Linked DNA regions of Homo sapiens. The protein of the gene in region 1 interacts with the protein of each later gene in a biochemical or structural test. Each region holds a gene or a part of one and is shown on either strand. Other genes may lie near its edges.

Region 1 (6,851 bases):
GCTGAGGCAGGAGAATCGGTTGAACCAGAGGGTGGGGGTTGTGGAGGTTGCAGTGAACTGAGATTATGCTACTACACTCCAGCCTGGGTGACAGAGCAAGATTCCATCTCAATAAATAAATAAGTAAATAATAATAATAAGCTCTTTGAGAAGTATACGGAAACACTAACATAATTCCTGTATGTCTCAGTCTAGATGAGAATACTTTTAACATTTGTTTTCATCTTAAAAGTTTTTGTAAGTGCTGTGAAATCTCATTTATATATGAATACCATTCTCTCTAACTTTGCTGGCTGGGGACATAAGCTGCTGGTGTTTTTTTGTTTTTTGTTTTGTTGTTGTTGTTTTTTTTTTTTTTTTGAGACGGAGTCTGGCTCTGTTGCCCAGGCTGGAGTCCAGTGGCGTGATTTCGGCTCACTGCAACTTCTGCCTCCTGGGTTCAAGCAATTCTCATGCCTCAGCCTCCCGGGGTGCACACCACCACCCCCGGCTAATTTTTGTGTTTTTAGTAGAGATGGGGTTTCACCATGTTGGCCAGGATGATCATGATCTCTTGACTTCATGATCCACCCGCCTCAGCCTCCCAAAGTGGGATTACAGGCATGAGCCACCATGCCCAGCAGCTGCTGGTTATTAAGTGCTGCCAGTTCTTTTATTTAGTAGAGGTTTTATTACCTTTTCAAGTATATCTTGGTTATGAAAGGTATAAGTTAGATATAATTTTTAAATTTTTTCTGGGTTATAAGTTGTGCTTACCTATTTGACAGAAAGCTAGATGAATAATATTTTGAGACTATTTCATCACTCAGCTGACACTCAAGTGTCTATCTCTCTGTAACCTACCCTCCCACACTACACACACACACACACACACACACACTCACTCTCTCTGTCTTCTTGGATACTGTGTCAGCTCTTTGCTTAGGCTAGGTATACAAAGATGAAAATGACCTGACCATTGCTCTCAAGTATCTCACAATCTTGGTGGTAACAAACGTGTTAACTAGTAATTACATACTATGTAATAAGTACAATAAAAGTAGAATAAGAGCTAGTGTATTCCCAATATGTTCTATATTTCCTGTTTTTATGTAAAAAAAACTTGAGAAATAACATCTTTCTTTTCTGTTTAATTCTGAAGATCCTGACCTGAAGCAGGAGCTACAGTGGTTTCCCCAAAAGGAAGATTTTTGTTTAGTAGCCTAGAAAGAAGAAATTGCTATTCTTTACTCAGTACTTGCAAATGTATAATATTGTTTTGCCACAACATGAATTAATTTAATTAATGTATCTATAGGGGCTAGGAGAAAATTATGACAATAATGGACAAGTATAAAAGATGGGTTTCCTATATATAGGGAGAAAAAGGAATTGCTATAAATGACTTTTTACAACATTTTAAAAAACAATTTAGTCCCAGCCACTTGCTTTCTTGGAAGAAGATATTCGGGAAGTTTTAAAAGAAGAAACTGGAACAGACCTATTCCTCAAAGAGGAAGATGAACCTGCTTACAAAAGCTGCAAACAAGAGGTAATCTTCTAGTATTATTGTTAATAAAAGTCTTATTGTATCCAAGAGACTTTGCCATAAAGCTTCTACATAAATTACTCATTCTAGAATACCGCTTCTGGGAAGAAAGTCAGAAAATCACTAGTCTTAGATAATTGGGAAAAAGAAGAATCAGGCACTCAACTGTTGACTGAAGACATTTCAGACATGCAGGTTTGTAAAGGATTATTATTGTTGTTATTTTAAATGGTTGCTTTAAGTCCTAGAGGTTCTTATTTCTTACTCATTGTGTAGCCAGTTCATTAGAAATTCATGGAGAATTTTTATCTTAGTATCATTTTGCCTAATTCACAGAGAAACTATTCACTGTAGAGAATATTTTATTTACTTTTTTTTATATTTCTTTTGTTATGAGAGGAGTTAGCTGCCTTATATCTGATGTCAAAAAATCGTAGTTCTCAAGATTTTAAATATCAAAGTTTATCTTTGGTTCATTTCCAAAATAATATTACTACATTACTAGAAATTTCATCAGAGCCAAATGCTTTCTTGGAGGGAAATAAACAGGGCTTCCATTACCACTTACTCAGTAGTCCCTCCATTTGTCTCCATTTTTGAATTAGTTATTTTCCTCTTTCTTTTTTCTCTCTTAGTCAGAAAATAGATTTACTACATCCTTATTAATGATACCATTATTGGAAATACATGACAATAGGTGCAACTTGATTCCTGAAAAACAAGATATAAATTCAACCAACAAAACATATACACTTACTAAAAAGAAACCAAACCCTAACACTTCCAAAGTTGTCAAATTGGAAAAGAATCTTCAGGTATGGATTTATAAATTTCTTTAGTGATTTTTGTTTTTGTTTAGTCAATGATCACTTTGGATTTACTGATCACAAATTATACTTTTTCTTTTAAATTCAAAATTGATTGTAACAGTAACTAAACATTTACCATTATTTTATCACTCACATTTGGGTTTGAGCGACTCATTCATCAGGGCACATATAAACTAAACAATTGAAGCTGTAACCAAAGACTGGTCTGGTGATTTCCTAAGCACTGTATCTTTTTTAAACTAAAGATATATAAATCTACTTCTGGCACCTCTTCTCCTGTAACAAATATGTATAGCCCTAATTGCTATTCTGAAAAAGGGTAAGTGGTTGGAAGCAGTTTCAGCATGATTTTGTTGGTACCATGGTTTCCAGTGAACTTTTTGGCTCAGAAGTTGTAAAACAAAGTCCTTTTTTTTTTCTGTTGGGATACGACCAGTGTGTAACTGCAAATGAAGGTTGGAAAAATTTTTACTGCATTAAGAGTTTACCCCAGAGAATTTGAGAGTTCATTGAGTAGGAAATTTTCTTCTTTATGCCACAGTGACTGCAGCACTAGTATTCCTGATATTGAAGCATACCTTGAAAACGTCTTTGGCAATTACATATGACCACCTTACATCTGTTTTCAGCCACTGCTTTCTAAGAGCCATGTAGCACATTCTCTTAATCCATGTAAAATGATTTGAGTTCCTGGCGTTTAATTAACATAGAACTTTTGGGGAAAGTTATTATATAGAAGATCACATCTATAACATAGTAATCTTTAAAATAAGGGAAGGAAAAAAACATAAGCTTGATTTTTTGTTATGAATATATTTCCTAATTTGTAAATAAAGCATTCTTGGCTCATTTTTTGACATTACATCCTCTCTTTAAATCTTTTGCAAAATTTTGAAGCAATAAAGACTAACATTTATTTCCATGTTAAGACTCATTTGATTTGGGGGGAATTATTGGGGACAAGACTTTTAAACTGCCTCCATAGGCCTGTAAGCAATATAGATAGCTAAAATAATTGACTTTTTAAAAACTTGATAAAAAATATTTCAGTATATATTTTAAAACATTATTATTAAAAAAATACAGTGCCATTGTTAAAACATTTTTATAATTATTGTTTATAAAATATCTAATCAGTTAAAATAACTGACTTTAAGAGTCTAATTGTGATATAGATAGCTATTTTAATAATTTTCATGTCACTATTAATATTTCCTTTCTAGTCAAATTGTGAATGGGAAACAGTGGTTTATGGGAAGACAGAAGACCAACTTATTATGACTGAACAAGCAAGAAGATATCTGAGTACTTACACAGCTACCAGTAGTACTTCAAGAGCTCTCATACTGTAATTGTTATTAAAATTGATGAAATGCCCCACTCCCTTACTGCAGTCTCTACTAAATTAGGTTGCAGTGAAATTTTTCTCAATTAGTTGTTTTTAAAGTTGTAAGATAGCCCTTTTAATACAGCATCTTTTTTCTATTCTATATAGTAGGCAGAAAGCTAGTAAGTCACTTAAGGGGTAGATAGTTTCATAGTTTATTTTTTAAGAGATGAGATTTTTAAAAATTGTTTTTAAAGAACAAGATGGGAAAATAATAGAATGTTCATGGATTTCTAAAAGTAAATTCTCATATATTTTCTTCACAAGATATATGTTGCTACTCTCTTGATGCTGCAGTTTTGTTATAGATAGGTGTATGAGTATATATGATTTCTGAAATTAGTCTATGTATGGAAAGCACACATGATTTTATGAAGTACTTTTGCCCATGTGCTGATTTACTTAGGCTACCATTTACAAAGAAACACATTGAAAAGGAATTTAAAGGAAGGATAGAAAGTTGCACTACTAATTTTTTGTTTTTTTTTTCAGAAGCAGTAAAATTAACTACAGTGTTAAATGTATTTATTTGAGCATAGTACTGAAAACAAAAAGCATTCAAAAAAGAGTTTTTTCTTTATTAGTAAATAGTATTTTCTTAATCTCAGAGGAGCTGAGAGTTTTGTTGAATGTATTGTACAGTATGTAGGAGCAGGAGAACTTTGTAAATTGGAAAGAAGTCTGTTTTTATAATTTATTTTTATTTTTAAAGCTTAAATGTAGATATTTATACGTATACAGGGTGCCTAGAAGCCAATGTTGTTTCCTGTTATTACAGCTAACACAGTAAAGAATAATTTTGACTTTAAGTATGAAACAGTAGTAAGTTATAGCTGCAAAGAATACAATATCTATACTGTATGTCACATCTACCTAAATGTTGCACTATGCCCTTTAAATCATGCTGGTTATAAAGTAGTTCTAAAAATGTACTAAATAATAATTTAATATTTTCTTTTTAAATTATATCGGGGGTGGTCATATACATTAATCTGGTGATTTGTATATGTGTTTGAAATTTTTGCATTTTGTTTAAAAAATAATATGGTACCTTGGTCCCTAAAAACAGTCTGCACTTAGAAGTTTATATTTACTCAGTGTTTCAGAAGTGGAGAACATTATCTTTTATTTATAAAAATATTTTGTCCTTTTTTAAATGTTTTGTGTTTCTCTACAGGTTACAACAGTTGCTTCAGTTGCCTGTTTTAGGTGTTTGCACTTATTTTATTTCTTCTTGAAAGAATTTTTATTTGCTTTTGTGGTAGAGATTATATGTAATTTTTTTTCAGTCATATAATGGTGTGCTGTCAACTTAAACACTGACAGGTAAATAGAATTGTACACTGTAGTTTGAATTATTTATAATTGACACACTCTCTCCCTCTCCACTCCTGAAGTATGCTGCTATAGAAAATAGCAGAATCGGCTTGCTGCTACGAGAGAAGGAAAGAGCGACCACCACTTGCACTGTGTGAAAAGATAAAAAACAAATGATGGCAAGTTCTCAAGTTAACTAAATGGAATCAACCATTACCAGGCAAATTCTTGCAAATACCAAAATACTACTATGCCTTATAAAACAAAATGAAAGCAGGTTAAGATTTTCTGCTCTGTTTGTATGTTAATAGAAATGGAAATACTAAGTATTTTAATGCTTAGCTCTTGAACAGTAGACCTAAAAGGGTTTTAAGCTATTTAAATCTACTTGCTAGTTTTTGCATATTTTATATATATATATATTTATATATATATATAGTGAGAAGTGAAGAAAATGTATGGTACTAAGATTATGCCTTATTGATAAATAGATAAACCAATTTGAATCCTCTTAGCATGTTTAAGTATGTTGATTGCTTTCTAATTAATGAACTTCTCACAGAAATTTCACTTAGTGAAACCAATGATTGTAGCAAACTCATACTGGATCATTTCAGTTACCTTGAACTAATAGCACATAATGGTTTTTTGTTGTTGTTGTTTTTAATGTAGCCCTTACCTGGATATACATAGTCTGCAATCACCAAAGTATAATATCTTGTAAGGCTATATTTTTTAAAGCATATTTTTTCTTGAGCATTAAATTATCCTAAATGGTAATATATTGTGGATAAGTCTGGGCTTATTGGACATAATACATATTTGGGTTGGTACTGGTTGAATCCTTCAGTTAACTGCTTTGTTGCTTTTTGCAAGATTTTTTATCTTAAACATGTCAGGCATCTTAAGTCACCTTTATACTGTTTTGTTCCTCTGAGTTTCTTTCAGTATGTTATACAAATGCCAGACATAACATGTAGCAGCCATACTTGCATGGAAACTGACTACACATACATAATACTGCATTTTATTGTAAGGTTTTCACATTAATACAGCAATTACCCTGACTAAATTGAGTTTTGTGATATATGGAAAACTTCATTGTAAGAGAATCTTGCATACAATGTTGACATATTAACATCCAAAATAAAGCATCTGTGTACAAGCTGACTTGGCATTGCTCATTCACTTGGTTTTGTGCTTTATAAGGACTGATAGAATCCTTAGAGACTTAACATTCTGTTCTTAGGCCTTTTTTCTCATTTAGAACTCTCTTTACGGTGATTTTACCAATAAATACAACATTGCGCCTTTATAGAGCCTCATTTAAAACCAGATTTCCAGCTGTCTTTCAGATACTTTCACATGACACTTCCTGTTGGCGCCTTAAACATATGTTCAAAGCAGATTTCCTCTTTTTCCCAACTTTGACCTGCCCTTTGTTCTGTCACTTAGTGGTATTGCCTTCCCTTCATTTACCCACTGAGTAATCACCCACCTCCACATTGAAGTCAGCTGTGAATTCTCAGCCTGCATATGGCCTCTGTCTCCATTCTATAGAAATGTCAAGAAATTGAGCAGTGGCATAAGGGTGTCATCTGGGAAAGGCACACTGGTCATCCAGGCAGGGCTGTTTGGTATTCTATTACCTCGGTAAATTCATCACCATCTAGATTCTATCTTTAGCCTTGTAGGCTCCGAAGTCTGAGGAAATTAACTCATTAAAAGTGAGTTTACCTCTCAGTAGAAGGCTTACCTCAAGTTTATGACTGATATATGAAATTATAAT
Region 2 (4,512 bases), on another chromosome or scaffold:
GGGAAAGTATTTTGAAGTCAGGCAGTCTGGTTTCAGGCCTTGATTACACCACCACTGGGCTGGGACTTCTTCCTTAGCTGAAAGTACCTTTGGGCTGCTAGAGGCAGGAGGCAGAAGTGAAGAGGAGGGAGGTGTCAAGTCCCTTTACCAGTCTGCTTCATACAGAGCAATCTACTTTTATGTATTTAATATATTGGACTCCAAGATATTGCTTCAAAGAAAAAAAAGTTTGAAAACCACTGGATTAGAGACTCCAAGGTCTAAAAAGACTTCTCTATTGTGTATATTTAAATCACATCTTTGATATTGATTTAACTAAATTTTCAATATGTTTTTGTCAATCTAAAGTTTTTGAGAAGATTTTTAAAAACAACCAATTTCCTCAAAGATCAAAGTGGAAATATAAATAGGAAGTGTCTCAAAACTTTGCAAAGTCAGGATACGAGCTGTACTGAAGAGAAAACAAAGGAAAGAAACTGAAATAAAACAGATGACACATCTTTTTCAAATGTCACATTTAATGTTTTCACCACTGTACTTCAAATCTACATTGTACAAAGTGACCAGAAAGTGTGCCACGGTAATTGACCAACCTCTGAGATTGTACCTTTCACACCAGTGTCTTCTTGGGCTCTTTTGATACTAAACACGTTTCTCATTCAAGTGAATTGAAATGCTTCAGTTGGGTTGATTCTCAGGAGCCTCATAAAAAAAAAACAAAGATATTGCACCATCTTTGTTTAGTAATTCAATGTTTGTTTCTTTCACAGCAAATAATTACTTCATTGAAGTTAAAACTTCCAAACATAACTTATTAATAGTCTTCAAATTCAGCTCAGATCACTCAAGTTGAAAATACTCTGCTAAATACAGATAACTTACAATAACTTTAACAGTTAATTGTCCATAACACACACCAAGGTTTTTTCCTAGACCAATTTTAAGACGATCCATTAGTATTCCTTGTACAGGTGAAAAATGATCTTCAATTTTCTTGTCTTTTTATTTTTAATATAAAAGTTGGAAGGGACATTCAAGTTTCAAGTCTCCACACTGAACTCAAAAAAAAAAAATAGTCATCATCAGCATGTGGAGGTAAACAAGCCAAGTTGTATAACTCCAGGAGGTAGAGGCCTTCGATTTGTATTCATATGTACATATGCACAGAAGAATTCAGTGTTCCAACAGAAAAAAAGAACTTGTCAAAAAGTAATAAGTTATTTACTACTGTGACATTTCAAGACTCCCACAGCTTTGCCTAAGGACACAAACACATTTGACATAATTCCCTATGTGCCTTTTTTTGTGGCTTAAATTTTTTTTTAAATTTGTTTTTGTCTTTTATTATTTTTTTACTGTCCAGTGCAGGAAAAGTCTCACAAAATTTCACAGACCTAAAATGTGCAAGCTAGTTCTCTTTCTATACAGCAATATTGGGATTCTTTTGAAATTAGCCCAGAAATGAATTATTTACACACATGAAAGATGCATGCTTGGGGTTCTTTTATGTAAGAAAGAGCAGAAAAACTTCTAATAAAAATAGATTAAATATATATATATATATTTATACTGGGTAAGGAAAACAAAAGTTTAGTCTCTCCTAGTCACAAACTCATTCTCTCTACCCACAACATTGGATTTTAGACAGCACACATCACCATCACGGCTCTAATGAGAAGCTAATTATAGGGCTTGATCATTAGGTGGCATGCCCCTCCTCCCTACCCTCCCCCCAGGTGCAGCCACGATCAGCTCACGTGGCTCCATGATTGGTCGCAGGCAAGGTTCCTAGATTCTTTAGTTTTAGAAAACCCCAAATCTTTAGGAATGGCTCAAATATCAAAATGTATGACTGTCCTTTGTGTTTGTGTGTGTGTGTGTGTGTGTGTGTGTGTGTGAACAATCTCACTTCATTTTAGAAAAGAAAAACAAAACATAAAACCCCAAACTCCCAAATTTGGTTCAATTCTCTTTTGTTCTGAGGTGAGCCATAACAGCTGCACTAAATTCATAAAACATGTGCAACTCTGGGTAAAATATTTTTCTTCTAAAAGCACAACCACTTTACAAGATTAAAAGTCTAGTAACATTTCTAAATATTATTCATATCATACAAGTAGTGGTTGTTAATTTAAAACTTCATTAGTAAAATTACAGTACAAGCATGATTAACCTCCAGAATTGCAAATCCCAGACTCCAGTGGAAAGCTACATTACATCTTCAGTAGTACATTATCTTCCACCATCACTCCCACACCAGAGGAGATGGGGGCATCTCAGATGGCTGAGCAACAGTGGAACTGGAAGAAAACAGAGATGGAGAAATTAGTTGTAATGTCACAATGGACAAAAGGGTAATTCACTACTTCCTGTTTTCCTCTCTTCCTCTGAAAAAATTAATTCCACTTCTGGATTTTTATTTGTTTCTTTGAAGTTGAATTTATTCTAAGTTGCTTGTTTATGGACCTGTTATCTATGGAGAGGCAATCTGGTATAGTGGCTAATATGTAGGCTTGAAAACCACATGTCATTTACTAGTTGTATGGCCCTGAGCAAGTGCCTTAATCTCTTCTCATTTGGAAAGAAATAATGCTGTTTACCTCATAGGATACTGGGATGAATAAATGATAATAGATGTGAAGTATTTTCCACAGTGCCTACTTCAAAGTGTAAAGTAAATGTAGGTATTACAAGTAATAATTTCAATAATCAATCAGGAAAATAACCTTAAGGGATGTAGAATCATCCATTTAAAAGTAGCCTCTCAAAATACAGTGGCCTATTTTGAATGGGCCTTATAAGCATTCTTTTATCAAGTATTAATGGAGAAGTATAGGTAATCATTTAGCATTGGTGATCTAGATCTGTTATTGGCTTTTTCCTATGTCTAAGATTGCTAATTAGATTATAAACTTGAGAGGGAAAAGTGTAACCCCTTGTTTCCCCAAGGCCCAGGATCATTTGCACCTAAGCTGCTAAACTGCCTAACTGACTGGGTCACTGACTCTTAGGGGAAAATAGTAAAACAAAGTAATTTAAAACCACAGATAAGTAAAAGTGCAACTTAATTCCTTCTTCCAATAGAAAAATACATGGAAGAAATGAAAGTCACCTGATTTTGCAAATTTTAAGCATAAAATCTTGACTGTGGTCCAACAAATCCAACCAACTTTAATATGATTAAAGGGAAAGGGCAGCAGGAAGAGAGAAAAAGGAGAGGAGAAAGGCAGCGGGGAAGATAGAGACTGTGTGACCACTCATATCCGAATCCACCCTTTGTCCTGCTTTGTGATACTGGAGCCAGACCCTGTTCATGGTTCCCCTTTGCCACCTAGCTTAATGTTAGCTTTTGTCAACAGAGGGTGCTGGAAGGGCATTTGCAAGGCTGTAGCATCAGGAAGCAGTCTCCCTTCCTTGGTTTGTTGTGCCTGTTTTTGGTCATGTGGAAGGCTCAGCTTTGGTCCACCCGAACTCTCCTGGCAGGCAGTCTTTGATGGACCAGTTCTGGCCACACCTTCTGGCACACTTCCTCTTCTGCACCACCCTCGTGCTGTGTGTTCCAGTTCCTGTGGCAGCCATACCCTCTCCAAAGAGGTCCTTACATGAGGAACCTCTTCTAAATTCTTAATTCCTTTCTTGTTTACTCTCCCTCAGTCTACAGGGAGTGGCTGCTTTCTGCATTTGCTACTTCAGCAGCCTTCAGAATCCTCTTTTATGCCTTTTAGCAGTTGATCATCTTTCCTAGTTAACAGTTCTTATTACTGAATTTTCCCCGTTTGTATTCTAGGGAAGTGGTTTATTTCTCCCGATTAGACCCTGATCAATATATAAGGAGTTAAGGAAAAAGAAATCAAGAGAAGGAAAGGACAGACAGACAAGGAGAATGAAGCCTGGTAACTTCCAATGTAGGTTCATAGCTCTACCATATGCCTTTTGACTTCTCCTCTAAATAGGCTACACCAGCAGTCCACCTACACACAAAAAAATTATTTTCTTGCTTGCAGTTATTACTAGGGAGTGAGAATGGTAGTGGGAACTGAGATGACCACGTCTAACTCCAGGACAGGTGGCCACCATACTAATGCTGCAGCAGGACTGCCATATATGTGATGAGGCAGCACAATGGTCATCCGGGGAAAAAATTGCCAAAGCAACCGCAGTGAACTGGCACCAGTGTAAAATGTGATGCTTACAGTTTTTTGTTTTTTTTTTTGAGATGGAGTTTCGCTCTTGTTGCCTAGGCTGGAGTGCAATGGTGCGATCTCGGCTCACCGCAACCTCTGCCTCCCGGGTTCAAGTGATTCTCCTGCCTCAGCCTCCCAAGTAGCTGGGGTTACAGGCATGCACCACCATGCCTGGCTAATTTTGTATTTTTAGAAGAAACAAGGTTTCTCCATGTTAGTCAGGCTGGTCTTGAACTCCAGACCTCAGGTGATCTGTCTGCCTTGGCTTCCCAAAGTGCTGGGATTACAGGCATGAGCTACCGCGCCCAGCCCAGATGCTTACAGTTTT

What was found.
Region 2: the proteins of MYBL1 (region 1) and NLK form a complex in vitro, tested with the Homo sapiens proteins (one study listed by BioGRID).

What each region holds. Positions count from the first base shown.
Region 1 is NC_000008.11:66,561,556-66,568,406, reverse strand, and holds the end of MYBL1 (myb-related protein A), read left to right. Parts: intron 1-1,141; coding exon of another isoform or gene 1,142-1,153; exon of another isoform or gene 1,154-1,408; intron 1,409-1,414; coding exon 1,415-1,531; intron 1,532-1,618; coding exon 1,619-1,723; intron 1,724-2,163; coding exon 2,164-2,343; intron 2,344-3,581; coding exon 3,582-3,710; 3' UTR 3,711-6,232; downstream 6,233-6,851. UniProt on the Homo sapiens protein: Transcription factor that specifically recognizes the sequence 5'-YAAC[GT]G-3'.
Region 2 is NC_000017.11:28,192,370-28,196,881, reverse strand, and holds the end of NLK (serine/threonine-protein kinase NLK), read right to left. Parts: intron 2,301-4,512; coding exon 2,246-2,300; 3' UTR 501-2,245; downstream 1-500. UniProt on the Homo sapiens protein: Serine/threonine-protein kinase that regulates a number of transcription factors with key roles in cell fate determination. Positive effector of the non-canonical Wnt signaling pathway, acting downstream of WNT5A, MAP3K7/TAK1 and HIPK2.